Linked DNA regions of Homo sapiens: region 2 is linked to region 1. Evidence: fine-mapped expression QTL. Tissue or cell type: cerebellar hemisphere. Region 1 holds a variant in brackets; the other region holds the start of a gene. All regions are shown on one strand. Distances are between the middles of the regions.

Evidence for each region. PIP is the estimated chance that this variant, and not a neighbour inherited with it, causes the effect.
Region 2: it holds the start of RCL1, and the variant in region 1 is fine-mapped to the expression of RCL1 in cerebellar hemisphere (GTEx, PIP 0.96). The same link has a PIP of 0.9 or more in tibial nerve.

What each region holds. Positions count from the first base shown.
Region 1 is chr9:4,855,907-4,864,088 of GRCh38, forward strand. RCL1 (RNA terminal phosphate cyclase like 1) reads left to right here. Exons shown (of 9, transcript NM_005772.5): 9 at 4,219-5,160. The coding sequence ends at 4,369. It overlaps LOC124902113 (a long non-coding RNA gene), which reads left to right. Exons shown (of 2, transcript XR_007061402.1): 2 at 1-1,169. Among named protein-coding and RNA genes, the nearest start is that of MIR101-2, 9.7 kb to the left of the region's middle. The variant A/G (reference allele first, on the strand shown) is at 4,394.
Region 2 is chr9:4,788,123-4,796,304 of GRCh38, forward strand. It overlaps RCL1 (RNA terminal phosphate cyclase like 1), which reads left to right and starts at 4,822. Exons shown (of 9, transcript NM_005772.5): 1 at 4,822-5,105. The coding sequence starts at 4,970. RefSeq lists enhancers at 4,079-4,128, 4,949-4,998, 5,073-5,572 and a silencer at 4,509-4,868.

The sequences.
Region 1 (8,182 bases):
TTCTCCAAGAGATCAGAAGCAAGCTGAGGGCCCGTAGAAATTCTGCCAGCTGGGGAGGGTGTCTGGTTTTTCAAGCACAGTTGAGTGATTCAGAGTGAAGTAGGCTGGGTGACATCCTGGGAGCAGAGCATGCCCCAGGCCTGTGTTAGTTTGAGGCAGCAGCAAAGGAGAGACCAATCTGTTTTCTCCTTCAGATGCAGAGTGGGTGAGATGGCTGGCTTTTTCCAGGTTGCCGCCAGCTGGAAGCTTTGCCCACAGATGTGGACTGTTTATCTGTGGTTTGCTGTGTTTTCTTTTTTCCCTAGGACAGGATGGGGGAGATGGTGGGATGGATAGAAAGCAACAACGACAACAGAAATTTAATTGGTTAGTAAGACAGGAAAGCCAGCAGGGAAAGCTGACTTCCCTTAATTGCCAAGAATGTTGAAAATTGTTTCTCAAAATTACCCCAACTCCTAAATTCTATCCAGTGCCTCTTTACTGAGAACCTTTACAGTGCCTTGTTTGAATAACGGGTTCAGTGATGGAGAAGAGCCTCTTTACTGAGGCTAAATTCTATTCAGTGCCTCTTTACTGAGAACCTTATACAGTACCTTGTTTGAATAACGGGTTCAGTGTTGGAGAAAAGCATTGCTGTTGAGGTACTTAAATAATTTAATGATGGGGAAGGGGACAGTGATACATAAGCATTTAATTAGACACCATGAGCAGAGAATGCTATGGAAACCTGGAGGGGTGGGAAAGATCGTTTGGGGTAGGGTTTATGGGCTAGGAAAGACTTCATAGAAAAGTTGACAAATGGGATGTTATTTTAAAGGTCGAGATGAAGTTGCACATTCCTAGGTGGAAGGAAAGCAAGGAATTGGGGGATTTTTCTATGAGCATCCAGCACTGACCAGAACTCCTGCCCTCTAGGGTTGTTAATGTTTCATCTCTTAGCCCCTGATGCGCTGGTCACTTCAGCCACAGGGTCAGGAATTGTTCAGGCCCCCTTTTCTCCATGTAGCTGTTTCCTTCCTTTAACTAGATCAGTGCTCTTAGCACAGAGGGATGGGGATGGGAGGGAAATTCATCAAGGCAGGCTTTATATGTAGTTTGGTATACACCGAGTAGGGGTGAGAACCAGGATCAGTTGTTTTATAGCATGGCAAATATGTATTGATTTCTTTATTTTAAAAAGCTTTATTGAGAACCAATTCACATATGACACAATTTACCCATTTTAAGTACACAGTTTAAAGGTTTTTTAGTGTATTCACAGACTTGTGTAACCACAGCCACAATCTAATTTTAGCACATTTTTACTACCCCCAGAAAGAAACCCTGTGCCAGCTCACAGTGCCTCCCATTCTTCCCACTCTCCCCAGCCCCAGGCAACCACGAATCTCCTTTCTGCCTCTGTGATAGATTTGCCTGTTGTGGCTTTTTCATATTGTGTAGATAGAATCATACACTATCTGGTCCTTTGTGACTGGATTCTTTCACTTAGCATAATGTTTTCAGGGTTCATTGATGTAGCACGTATCAGTGCTTTGTTCCTTTTTTATGGCAGAAAAAAAAAAATCTTCCATTGAATGGATATACCACATTTTATGCATTCATCAGTTGGTAGACATTTGGGTTGCTTCTACGTTTTGACTCTTGTGAATAATGCCATTATGAATATTTGCGTGCAAGTTTTTGTGTGGGTGTATGTTTTCATTTCTCTTGTACATATTCCTAAGAGTAGAATTACCGTATCCTATGGTAACTCCCCGGTTAACATTTTGAGGAACTGCCAGGTTGTTTTCCACAGCGGCTGTACCGTTTTACATTCCCACCAGCAGTGTATGAGGGTTCTAGTGGTTCTGCCTCCTCACCCACACTTTTGTTATTGTATGTCTTTTTATTATAGCCATCCTATTGGATATGAAGTGATATTTCACAGTGGTTTTGATTTTCACTTCCCTAATAACCAGTGATGTTGAGCATCTTTTCATGTCCTTATTGGATATTTGTGAGGAAATATCCGTTTAGCTCTCCCACTTTTTTTTTTTTTTTTTTTCAGTGAGTCTTACTCTGTTGCCCAGGTGGGAGTGCAGTGGTGCAATCATAGCTCGAGTAGCTAGGACTACAGGCTCCTGCCATCATGCCTGGCTAATTTTAAAACAATTTTTTTGTAGAGATGGGGGTCGTAATAGACTGGTCTTGAATTCCAGGCCCCAAGCAATTTGCCTGCCTTGGCCTCCCAAACTGTTGGGATTACAGGTGTGAGGTACCATGCCTGTACTCTCCCATCGTTTAATTAGGTTATTTGTCTTTTTATTATTGAGTTGTAAGAGTTGTTTATATAGTTGAGATGCCTGACCTTTATCAGATATATGACTTGCAGATCTTTTCTCCAATCCTGTAGGTTGTTTTTTTACTTTCTTGATGGTGCACTTTGATGCACAAAGTATTTTAATTTTGATGAAGTCCAATTTATTTATTTTGTCTCTTATTGCCATCCTTTTGGTGTTGTATTTAAGAAATGGTTAAGAAACCGTTGCCTAGCCCAAGGTAATGAATATTTACTCCTGTATTTTCTTTAGTGAACTTTATAGTTTTAGCTCTTACAGCTATGACTTTGATCTCTTTTGGGTTAAGTTTTGTGTGTGATGTGAGGAAGGGGCCCAGCTTCATTCTTTCACCTGTGGATATCCAGTTGTTCCAGCATCATTTGTTGCAATGATTATGCTTTCCTCATTGAGGAAATTAGCCATAACTGTGTGGTTTATTTCTTGACTCTCAATTCTCTTCCATTGATCTATGTGTTTAGCGTCAGTGTTTTTAAAGCTCCTTAGGTTATTCCATGTGCAGTCGAGATTGAGAACCATCTGGCCAGAGTGGAGAGTTTGGCTGGTTTGATTGGGAGACAGTACAGTGCGAGGTTTTTGTAATACTTCACTATAGATGTGCAAGCCATCATTCTTCACTAAGCCAGTATTCCCTAACCTTGCCCAATGAGACTTGCCAGGGATTCTTGTTAACAACATAGATTTCTGGCCTCTATGAACTGGGGAGTACAGGGCCTGGTGGAGGGTAGGGAGGGATCAGCTTTGTGTGTGGACTGTGATTCTGGGCTCTTCCATATGGACATTTCCTACCAGTTGCAAGTTCACCATAACCTTCAGGAACCTGTGTATTTAATGAACTGTTCAGGTGAGTCTTATGGTCAGGCTAGCTGGGGTGACGCTAGGTCTGCCAGGCGAGACCATTAGAAGCCTGTGCACCTGCACTGCGGTTCATCCACAGAATTGCTCTTCCCAAGGTACTCTTGGACTGATGCCATCGCCCTGTGATGCCATTGTCCTTGTTGTGTTTACTGTGCACACTTCCCCGGCCACCTTATTTAATATTGCCTTCTGCCAAATATGTACAAATACTGTCATACCCACAGTTCTTCCCCGTCTGTGTTGTTTGCTTTGTTTACATTACATAGCACTTTTCAGGAATAAAATTAATTTATTTATCTAGTCTCTATCTATACCACTAGATTGAAATCCTCCTGAGGGAAGGATTTTTATTTTTATTTTTTTTCATTTGAGTGCAATATTCCCAGCACCAAGAACAGTGCCTAGCATACAGTAGGCACTTGATACATATTAAGTAAATGCGAGGGTATTATTGGAGAATGAAGGGAGGGACTTGTCTGTTTCAGCATCAGTAGTCATTGTGCTTGTTTTGAATGTCATGGTGCTGTGAATCATGGAAATAGGTGTTTCTGTCTTTGTATAGGCCACTCAAAAATCATTGCCTAAGCCAGGTACATTGGGACACCCATAGTCCCAGGTAGTCAGGAGGCTGAGGTGGAGGATTGCTTGAGCCCAGGAGCTTGAGGCCAGTTTGGGCAACATAGTGAGACCCCATCTCTTATAAAAAAAAGAGTCATCACCATATTTCTGTCCATTTTCTGCTAGGTCTGAACTAAATAACTTATGTGTCACGTACGAACTTCTAACCTTTCCCCCCCCAGTTTAATTTATCTTGCTGTATTGCGTGTATCTCTGCAAACTATCTAAATCTTCTTTGGAAACTGGCTGGCTGAAAGGAAGTACTATTTAATCAGATTCGATGAGAAGGTCTTAACTTCAGCCCTCTAGGTCTGGGAGATTAAAACCTTGGATTCTAGGTGGTAGAGGATAATTTTTTTTTGAATGAATTTCTTTTTATTTATTTATTTATTTTTTTCCTTTTTAGGATAGAATTTTTGCGGCATTTGAAGAGCTTTTTCCAGATTATGTTTAAAATTGAAACCAAGCCATGTGGTGAAGAACTCAAGGGTGGGGATAAAGTGCTGATGACCTGTGTTGGCATTGGTTTCTCCAACCTTAGCAAGACCCTCAAGTGATAACCATCACAAGATAAGGCCCCA[A/G]TGCCTACAGACAAAGCAGAAGCTGCCACGGACACCAATGGGACCAAGTCCAAATGGATTAATCCAGGACAGAATAGCCACTTGCTTAATTTTCTGTGAAGAAATATCAATATACAAATAAAAGACATCCCTGTAGCATATGGTTTCCAGCTGTTTCTCCAGTGGCATTGCCATTGCCCAGGAGGGGCCCAGTCACCATGAGAGCTCCCTTGCCTTACCTGGAGGAAGAATGTGCCTTCAGGCCACAGTCGTGCTGCTAGAACAGTCTCGTAGCTGCAGTTCAGCTGTGCTTCCTCAGCCTACTATCATAGGCTTCCTCAGCCCTCTGTCATATGGCTGTTTTGCAAACCTGTGGAGTCTGTTACTGTTCTTTCTGCAAGGACTCACCTCCTTGAGCCTTGGTTTTTGTTGTAGGGATTAAATGAGATAATATGAGTGGCAGCTCTTCATGAGTCCTGCAGTGCTAAGCAAATGTCAGAAATTGGTGTATTAGACTATTTATCTTTGATCTTCTGAATGGATTGCTGTCATGGACACGGACACGGATCTTCATCTGGTTCATTGTATTTATATGTGAGGGATGGATGGCTGCGGGGCTCCAAGTAAGTTATTGGGATGTTTTTATATTCCAGGTGTGCTGTACATTCTTATTTTATTTTCACAATAGCTCTGTGATGTAAGTGCTATCTCCATGAGAAAATTCATAAAGGGTGTTTTGTTCCTTTGAAATGTATAATGTAAAGACATTAAATCTCCTCATTTAAGGATCTAAGTGTAATAAGTGTAATAGAGTCAGGGTCTGGGATTTTACCCTTGCAAGCTAATAAGTTAGATTATTACTTTTTTATTGATGCTACCAGAAGACATGAGGATCCTGGGTCAGAGATAAAGAACTTTACTCAGCATAGCAAGCAGCATGAACTTCGTGTTTATATTGGTTTCCCCTGTCTCACAGTGGACATGGAGGGGCCCAGGTAGATGCTATGCATGTTACAAGTTTGCATCATAGCCAAAGAACTTGTTATGTTTGGGGACTCCACCTATTTCATGGCAAGCCTGTTGTTTCACGTGCAGAGATTACTTCATCCCTTAAGACTGCCTCCTGCAAACACAGTTTTGAGAAAGAACCCAGGCAAGAGCCTGCCCAGCAAGAATATGCAGGAATACCAGGATCCATGGCAGATTTCCCCTGCCAGCTAATAGAGTCTGCATTTGATATGTGCATAGGCTTGAAGTTTGTAGAAGGGGAAAGATGTACTTCTTTCTACTTGAATTCCAAATGGTGTCCTCCCCCGGGGGTGAACTTTGCCTCATCACTCCCTCTCGGTACCTTTTGCTTTTTAAGTGAAAAGGGGCTAGAGAAAGGCTGTGCTTTGATGTCTAGGGGTGTGGGAGGATGTGGAGGTAGAGAGTTAACCTTGAGGAAGGCCAGGACATTCTGGACTATGACATTCTACTGAGAGCTTTACATACTGTATTGGTAATATGCTCTTGGTATATAACAAATGCTCACAAACTTAGTAGCTTAAAACAATACCTCTTTATCATTTCACAGTTCTGAAGGTCAGATATCCAGGCAGGGCTTGGTTGGATTCTCTGCTTAGAGTCTCATAAGGCTGATATCAGGGTGTGTGTCACCTGGGCTGGGCTCAGCTCTCATCTGAAGGCTCTGGGAAAGAATGTGCTTCCAGCTCATTCAGGTTGTCGACAGAATTCAGGGTTGTAGGACTGAAGTCACCTGTTTTCTTCCCATTTTTCTTGCTGGCTGTGAGCTGTGGACAACTCTTAGCATATAGACAGGCACTGTCCGTATTTCTGTTCACTTGGTCTCCCCTACCTTCAAGCTGGCAATGGTGCATGGAATCCTGGTACTTTGGATTCACCTTCCGTTTGATACCAGCTGGAGAAAACATTGCTTAAAAATGACTCATAGCACAATAGTCCTACCTGGATTATCTCCCTATCTTAAGGTCAACTGACAACAGCAATACTAGATTTGTGTTTAAATAACCAGGGGCTGGGAATCGTGGATTACCATCTAAGAATTTTGCCTGCCACACATACTGCAGTCTTACCTAGTGCCGCTGACGTTCGAACTCAGATCTGCCCATATAGAGCTCAAATCCAGAACTAAGGGGCACATTGCTTTTGGAATATCACATACCTGCCGTTCCTTGTACAAGCTCTGGAAATGGTGCTGTTGGTCAATGTAGGGTGGCACATAGAGGCCAGGCAGATTACTATAAGCAGTAGAGGGGATATGTGCTACTGTCTGCTGCAAACCTGGAAGTGTCTGGTGTGGTTCCAGCCCTGCATTTGGCAAAGCTGCTTCTGGAGTTGGAACATCTTGCAGGAATGGTGATGGTATTGCCAAAAAGAGGACAAATTTAATATTTATTTAAACAGCTCACTCCCAGCCCCTTCTCAAATTCCCAAGAGAAGCAATGTACCATTCCTTCGGGAAGAAGTCATCCTTTGCTGTTTGCTGGGACATCTTAGAGACTATTCAAATCCTGCATTCTCTTCCTTTTTTCTAGCTTAGCTCCTGGTCGGTCCACTTACTTGCTGGGGTAGCTTGAAGCGAGAGATTCCAGCGTTTTGGGGCTTGGTTTTCTATCTTGGTCTGTCTGTTCCTTTCTGCTGATAGAGATAGACCATTCTGAGTTAACGGCAGCAGTTGTTCAATGGGAGTGTGAGTTTTTTAGGCAGATAAACCTGTGAACTTGCTGGGGGTCATGGCAGTATCATTCTTTGCCTTCTTGTCATCTACAAGGCCCTGCTTCTGTCTTTCAACATCCTTTAACTACATTCCATGCAGACTCCAGCCAGCCTCCATCATGATGATTTTACCATAGTGGTCAAAACAGTTGCTAACGGGTGGGAGGCAGCCAGTGTGTTGCAACATGACATGTTGATTGGGAAGGAGCAACAGGAGGACCTGCTGAATTACACATTGCCCTCACTGGGCAGCTAAGCCTCAGGGGTTTTGTTCTTTTAAAAAAAAATTAAATTCTTTTTTGAGTCAGGGTCTCACCCAGGCTAGAGTGCAGTGGTGCAGTCCTAGCTCACTGTAACCTCAAACTCCTGTGCTCAAGTGATCCTCTTGCCTCAGCTTCCCAAGTAGCTGGGACTATAGGCATGAGCCACTGTACCCAGCTAATTAAAAAAAAATTTTTTAGAGATGTTGTCCAGGCTGGAGTTTTTGTGTTTTTGTTTTTGTTTTTCCAATTTAATTTTAAGTTCTGGGATACCTGTGCAGGACGTGCAGGTTTGTTACATAGATAAACATGTGCCATGGTGGTTTCCTGCACCCATCCACCCATCACCTAGGTATTAAGCCCAGGGTGCATTAGCTATTTATCCTGATGCTTTCCCTTCTGGGTTTTCTTTATTTTAAAAAATCATTTCCAAAAAAGTGGTAAAGGATAGCTAATCACAGACCCAAATTATAAAAACAAAAATTCAAGTTGTACCATGGTGCCTGTCCTCACACCAAACGGCAGAAGACCATGAGGTGGCCATTTCCTGTTAGGTCTTTGTGTTGGGAGGCTGCTAGGTGAGACCAATCCTGGCACTTAGTTTTATGGGCCCTGAGTAGAAGAGTTGAAGGTGCTAGAGGGAGGCAAAGGAAGTAGGCAGGATGTTGTACAGAAGGCTGGAAGCAGTTGATGAAATCAAAGGTAGTTGGGGACACTGGAGCATCAGTGAAACAATTTCCAAAGTTTTGGCCGTGCCTGAGGTGAGGGTGGAGTTCGGCTGGGGGAGGCGGAATCAGAGTGAGCTAAATAA
Region 2 (8,182 bases), 68 kb before region 1:
AATGTAATACATCATAGCAAGAGAATGAAGGACAAAAATGATCAAATGATCATTTCAATTGATGCTGAAAAAGCACTTGATAAAATCCAGTATCGCTTCCTCATAAAAGCCCTAACAATACTGAGTATAGAAAGACATCCCTCAATATAATAAAAGCCACATATGATATACCCACAGCTAATATCATACTGAATGGGGAAAAACTGAAAGCCTTTCATCTTTTTTTTTTTTTTTGAGACACAGTCTTGCTCTGTCACCTAGCCTGGAGTACAGTGGTGCGATCTCAGCTCGCTGCAACCTCTGCCTCCCAGATGCAAACAATTCTCATGTCTCAGCCTCACCAGTAGCTGGGATTACAGGTGCATGCTACCACACCCAAATGGAGTTTCACCGTGTTGGCCAAGCTGGTCTCAAACTCCTAGCCTTAGGTGATCTGCCCGCCTTAGCCTCCCAAAGTGCTAGGATTACAAGTGTGAGCCACCACACTGGCCACCTTTCTTCTTTGATCAGAACATGACAAGGATTCCCACTTTCACCACTCTTATTCAACATAGTACTGGAAGTTTGCAGCTACAGCAATTGGACAAGCGAAAGAAATAAAGGGGATTCAAATAGGAAATGAAGAAATTTAATTACCCTTGGGTGTGGGTGGCTCATGCCTGTAATCTCGGAACTTTGGGAGGCCGAGGCAGGCAGATTGCTTTGAGACAAGCATGGGCAACACAGTGAAATATCATCTCTACAAAAAAATTAAAAAATTAGCTGAGTGTGATGGAGCATGCCTGTACATGCCTGTAGTCCCAGCTACCAGGGAGGCTGAAGTGGGAGGATCACTTGGGCCTGGGGCGTTGAGGCTTCAGTGAGCCATGATCATGCCACTGCACTCCAGCCTGGGTGACCGAGTGAGATCCTGTCTCAAAAAAAAAAAAAAAAAAAAAGGCGGGGGGAAAGAAAAAAGAAAGAAAGAAAAGAAAGAAAAGGAAGGAAGGAAGGAAGGACGGGAGGGAGGGAGGGGAAAGAAAGAAGAAAAAATTTTCCTTGTTTTTAGATGATATAATTTTATATTTAGAAAAACCCAAAGTCCACCAAATAAATATTAGAACTAATAAACAAATTCAGTAAATTTGCAGGATACAAAATTAACACACAAAAATCAGTAGTATTTCTCTATGCCAACAATGAACAATCCAAAAAAGAAATCAAGAAAGTGATCCCATTTACAATAGCTAAAAAGAAAATAAAATACCTAGAAATGAACTTAAGAAGTGAAAGATCTCTACAATGATAACTATAAAATATTGATGTAAGATTTTGAAGAGGCCACAAAAAATAGTAAGGTATTTTATGTTGACAGGTTGGAAGAATCAACATTGGTAAAATATCCATACTACCCAAAGCAGTCTCTATTAAAATACCAATAATATTCTTCACAGATATAGAAAAAAAATCCTAAAATTTATATAAAACCACAAAAGACCCAGAATAGCCAAAGCTATCCTAAGAAAAAGAACAAAACTGGAGGAATCACATTACCTGATTTCAAATTATACTACAATTAGCTGGATGTGTTGGTGCATGCCTGTAATCTCAGCTACTCAGAAGGCTGAAACATGAGAATCGCTTGAACGTAGGAGGTGGAGGTTGCAGTGAGCTGAGATCATGCCACTGCACTCCAGCCTGGGTGACAGAGTGAGACTCTGTCTCAAAAAAAAAAAAAAAAAAAAAGAAAAATTAAAAAAAAATACTATAGTAACCAAAATGGCATGGTACTCGCATAAAAACAGACAAATGGACCAGTGGAACAGAATAGAGAACCCAAAAACAAATCTATAACCCTACAGTGAACTCATTTTCAATAAAGGTGCCAATAACATACACTGGGGAAAAAACAATCTCTTCAATAAATGGTGCTGGGAGACCTGGATATCCATATGCAGAAGAGTAAAACTAGACTGCTTTCTCTTGCCGTGTACAAAAACCAAATCAAAATGGATTAAAGACTTATATCTAAGACCTCAAACTATGAAATGGCTACAGAAAATATTGGGGAAAATCTCTAGGACATTGGTTAGGCAAAAATTTCTTGATTAATAACCCACAAGCATACGCAACCAAAGCAAAAATGGGATCATATCAAGTTAAAAAGCTTCTGCACAGCAAAGGAAACAATCAACAAACTGAAGAGACAACCCAAAGAGTGAGAAAACATATCTGCAAACTACTCATTTTGAGATATCATCTCATCCCAGTTAAGATGGCTTATATTCAAAAGACAGGCGATAACAAATACTGGTGAGGATGTGGAGAAAATGGAACCCTTGTACACTGTTGGTGGGAATGTAAATTCGTGCAACCACTATGGAGAACAGTTTGGAGGTGCCTCAAAAAACTAAAAATAGAGCTACCATATGATTCAGCAATCCCACTGCTGCGTGTATACCCAAAAGAAAGGAAATCAGCATATCAAAGAAATATCTGCACTCCCATGTTTGTTGCAGCACTCTTCACAATAGCTAAAATTTGAAAACAGTCAAAGTGTCCATCAACAGATGAATGGATAAAGAAAATGTGATACATATACACAATATAGTATTATTCAGCCATAAAAAAGAATGAAATCCTGTCATTTGCAACAACATGGATGAAACTGGAGATCATTATGTTAAGTGAAATAAGCCAGGCACAGAAAGAAAAACATCACATGTTCTCACCTATTTGTGGGATCAAACAATCAAAACAATTTAACTCATGGAAATAGAGAGTAGAAGGATGGTTACTAGAGACTGGAAAACATAGAGGGGGTGGGGATGTTGGGGGGCAGGTGGGGATAATAAATGTGTACAAAAATTAGAAAGAATAAGATCTACTATTTGATAGCACAACAAGGTGTCTGTAGTCAACAATAATTTAATTTTCATTTAAAAATAACTAAAACAGTATAATTGTTTTGTTTGTATAATAACACAAAGAATAAAATGCATGAGGGGATGAGTACCCTATCCTTCAGGATGTGATTATCACACATTGCATGCCTGTATCAAAACTTCTCCCGTACCTCATATATACATGTACCATCTACCTACAAAAATTAAAAATTAAAAAAATTATATGGAACCACAAAAGACCCAGAATAGCCAAACCTGTCCTAAGCAAAAAGAACAAAACTGGAGGAATCACATTACCTGACTTCAAATTATACTACAGAGCTAGAGTAAACAAAATGGCATGGTACTGGCATAAAAACAGACACATAGATCAGTAGAACAGAGCGGAGAACGCAGAGATAAATCCACACAGCTACGGTAAACTCATTTTCGACAAAGTTGCCAAGAACATACTCTGGGGAAAGGACAGTCTCTTCAATAAATGATGCTGAGAAAATTGGATATCCATATGCAAAAGAGTGAAACTAGATCTCTATCTCTTGCCATTTACAAAAATCAAAGAAAAATGGATTAAAGGCTGGGAGTGGTGGCTCACACTTGTGAGGCCAAGGTGGGCCAATCGCTTGAGGTTAGAAGTTTGAGACCAGCCTGGGTAACATGGCAAAAACCCATGTCTATACAAAATACAAAAATTAGCTGAGCATGGTGGTGCACACCTGTAGTTCCAGCTAATGGGGAGGCTGAGGTTGGAGGATTACTAGAACTCGGGAAGTTGAGGCTGCAGTGAGTCATGAGCATGCCACTCCACTCCACTTTATAACACACTGTTGTCTACATAAGGCTAGCTACATCCCTTAATCTTAAACTCCCACCGCTTTCAGACACTATCATACCCCGCCCCCCTTCCCCCCGCGAACCCCCGTGCATTCTGGGACTCATGGTTTGGTGAGTGTTGTCCAGGAATGGCTACAAACCCACATTACTATGATATCGGACTTCTACTTGTGTAGTCATTTGTTAGTTAACTGTACATTTTGGAAGGTTTTTGAGTAGAGAAGTGAAATAATCCAACGTTTGGGAAGATTTTCTTGTGCAGGATTGGAGGAGGACGGGAAAGAGGGAAAAAGCATTGCGCGCGTGTGTGTGTGTGAAGTTATTACAACTATCTATCTTGAAGCATGCGAGGTAGGAGGGCCTGAATTGCCATGAAACGCAATGACGATAAACGAAGGGACCCGTGAGAAAGGGGCAAAGAGGTGTCTCAATAAAATAAGCAACGGCCTGCTGTGGGAGGATTCGGGTCTCAGTATAGGCTGCCACTGTCAGCTTTGCAATATTCCTCGAGCCTTTATCCATGAGTAGGACAGGATGGCTCTACCTTGCAGGGTTACAGCATGGAGCTGCGGGACTGCGCCGGCAGTGCGCTGAGCGGCATCCCTGCGATAGGGTGAGTGCACCAACCCTTGTTGTCTCTCTTAGTAAGAAAGAGGAGGGGTAGATAATAGCATCTTCACCCCAGTAGTTGCCGTAAGTAGTAATGCTAAGAATCCGGCACGTCGTAGGCATCAATCTCAGTCCGCCATCTCCCCTTGCTACCACGCCAGGAGGTACACAGAGGAGACTGCCCCGACTGGCAACTCCCGCGCCGGGGTTCCCTGGCCATCCTCCCGCGTTCCCTCCAGCCGCGCGCTGTTGCCAGGGCCCGGGCACCGCCCAGCTCCACTACGGACCAATGGCAGCGCGGCTTGGGCACCGCCCAGCTTCAGCGGAAGCCAATGGAGGCGCGGCGCGGGCACCGCCCTGATCCGGCGCGGGCCAATAGCGGCGTGGCCCGAAGCGGGGGCCGCCCCGGTCGGGCGGGGAGGCGGGGAGGTGGCCACTGGCTCCGCCCCGCTCCCCTCTGACCCGGTGTCTAGTCTCTCCGTCTTCCTGTTCCAAACCACGTGGACGCGTCTGGGCTGCTGGAGGCAGCCCGAGCCGCCGCCGTCGGTGTCGCCGCCACCACCACCATCGGAGTCACGAGTCCCGCGTCTGTCCGAAGTCGCCGCTCTCGGGCTGCTCACGTCTCTTCGGAGAGCGCGCACATGGCGACTCAGGCGCACTCCCTCAGCTACGCAGGGTGCAACTTCTTGCGCCAACGTCTGGTCCTGTCTACCCTGAGCGGGCGCCCCGTCAAAATCCGAAAGATTCGGGCCAGAGACGACAACCCGGGCCTCCGAGGTAACTTGGTGTGGGCGGCGCGCGGCGTGGGCGCGGGGGCTGAGGGGAGACCGAGCTGATGCCGTGGGGGCCCGCGCGGTGTTGGTTGGGCGGCTCGGCGTCCGGCGAGCGCGTCGGGGAGGGCAGGTGGCGCGTCGCCTCCAAAGCCGGAGGGGCAGGCACAGTGGGGGAGGCGGGGTCGGGGCCCGAGGGGAGCGCTCAGCTGCAAGCTGCGCTCGGCGTCTCCGGGGCGCTGGTAGTAAACAGCTGCACGTTTTCCAGCTTTACGTGTAGCAACAAATCCCTGGCGTCGCCCCTTCGCGTCCCTTCGGCCCCTCTTGCCCTCGCCATAAACCTCTCAAAGGAGAAAAACAGTTTGTTGGACCGAAATATGGTGAATGAGCCGGGGGAGAGACATTGGGAGAGAAAAGTACCTTGGGTTGGTTCTCTGCCCTGTCTCAAAGCAGTTCTCAGAAGCAGCTGCCCCCTTGGACACCGGCTGTTCCTGTCGCCATGATTTCTCGGCTGCCCTCACACTTGTCCTTGGGTGTGGATAAAGAAATTTTTAAAATTCTGTGTTTGTTTTCAGCCGTGACTGTGATTGATGTGCGCAGGACAGGAGCTTTGAGATAGACTTTTAACAGTCATGGGCCTAATTGCCTTGACTTTAGAAAAGGGGTCGGTGACAATCGCTAAACTGCAGGCTTCCAAGCTCACTTCTTGCTCTGCAATGGTAGGTTAAAAAGAAATAGGCCCATTTAAACCCACATCTCATTAAATGGCGCCGGTTTTCAACTGGCCTTGGTTTACACCTGGCCCCCTGGCATGAGATACATGCATTTAAAAGCTTCTGACTGGTGGTTATCCCAAGTTGGGCGAGTCAGTAGTCAGGTGAAAAAGGAAAAAACCTGTCTGTAAATTGAAAAAGAGTGTTTGTGGTTGGTCCTGGAAGCTTCCTGAGCGGCGCTGATGTGTTTCATTTTGCACTGGCTCTTGTTTTATCTGTCTGAATGCATTTTTTGGATAGTTAGATCTCTGCCTCTCTTGGGTGGTGATTGGCTGCACATAAAGGGCAGAAGATGCCATGCTATTGACGGAGATAGGTTAGGAAGGAAAGAAGCAGAATATCCCAGGTACAGTGGTGAGAAACCTAGTGATGGTAGGAAAAACTTGTGTTGGTGGTTCCTGTCCTCTCTCTACTGCTCAAAAACACTGAGAAAGTTAGGGAGAGACCACAAATGGTTTATGCCACGACTTTTCCGTCAACAAGTGTTCCACTTAGTTTGACCCTTGGGCAAAGTGTTTGCTTGATTGCTGTGTGGCATTCTCAGCCAGCTCTCCATCCACTTTACCCTCAGGTTAGCTCAGAGAACTTGCCACTAGCTGGATATGGTAAGAAGATGGACTTCTACTTTGTATAAAAGTAGGCATAACTTTTTTTTTTTTTTCCAGAGAAATGGAAGTATAGCCTGGAAACCTGGGTTCTCTAAAATGAATCTAGTTCTATTTAGAGTTTTTCTATTGACAGGTGGCCTCCAATTTAATATTTAATGTTCCAAAGTATGCTTCTCCTTCTCCCCCTCCACTGTATGTGAGCATCTCTTCAAAGCATCTCACACATATGAGCTCCCGTTTCTTCCAAGAACAGGGCTTGGCCACTTGGCACTTTCTTGAAAGGGTGTCAGACGCTGATACCTGAGGGAGGTAGAACTGCTTGGCAGGTGTGCTGGTATTTTATGGGGAACATTACTGTAGAGCATTATTTGCCTTACCCCGTTCATATACCAGGGGAAGAAAGAGACTCCTAGTTATTTGTACATCCTTGCGCTGGCTTCAGGGCCTCAGAAACCTTGTAGATGTTTGTCTGCTTAATTTCTTTCTTTTTTTTTGAGACAGAGTCTTACTCTGTCTCCCAGGCTGGAGTGCCGTGGTGCGATCTCGGCTCACTGCAACCTCCGCCTCCTGGGTTCCTGCAATTCTCCTGCCTCAGCCTCCCTCGTAGCTGGGATTACAGGTGCCTGCCACCATGCCCAGCTAATTTTTAGTAGAGTATTTTTAGTAGAGATGGGGTTTCACCATGTTGGCCAGGCTGTATGAAACTGCTGACCTCAGGTGATCCGCCTGCCTTGGCCTCCCAGAGTGCTGGGATTACAGGTGTGAGCCGCTGCGCCCAGCCTGTCTGCTTAATTTCTTACAGAGGGAACAGAGAGATAGATATGCATTTGCAGATATACATGTATATGTGTATATGTATACACATACATGTAAGTGTATATACATATACGTGCACGCATAAATAGATGTAGTCCCTGACACATGATTTCTGGTCATAATCAAGGGAGTCCTTGGTAGCTTGATTGAAGATGTAGCCGGAAGCCTATGTTGCCCGTCATCTGTCCCTTTCTGACTTTTCCTAACTCAGATTCTCAGAGTTGGAAAAAACTCAGAGCATATCCAATAAAATCTTCAGTTCTAATGCAAGAATCACATCTCTTCAAGGTGCTTGCTTAAAACATCCCTCATGGTGTGGGCTTTGGAGGGTAGGGATAGTATGGGAGGCTTTCGGCCTCAGGAACATTTATTTAGAAAGTGTTTATTGAGCCACAGTATGTGCAAGGCTTTGTATGGGGGTGAGTGTAATATATGTGAGAAGCTGGTTGCCCCTGTTCTCATGGAGCTTGTCATGTAAGTAGGATGTTACTAAGTTTGAGTAACTTGAAGTAGGAAGGATTGAGTATTGTACAGGGGCTCAGTGGAGTTCAGAGCAGACACTTCCCTGAAAGTTACGAAGGAAGGCAGGTTTTCTGGACCTGATCTGGACAGATAGGATTGAGATGGTGGCTGCGGAAATCATTGTTTGCAAAATAAACAGTTCTTTTTTTAAAGAAATTTTATTTTAGAGTCGGGGGTACATGTGCATGTTTGTTACATGGATATATTGCCTACTGGTGGGGACTGGGCTTCTGGTGTACCCATTATCCAAATAGTGAACATCGTACCCAATAGGTAATTTTTCAATCTCCCTCAATCTTCCTCCTTTTCCAGTCCCCAATGTTTGTTATTTCCATGTTTAAGTCCATGTGTATCCATTGTTCAGC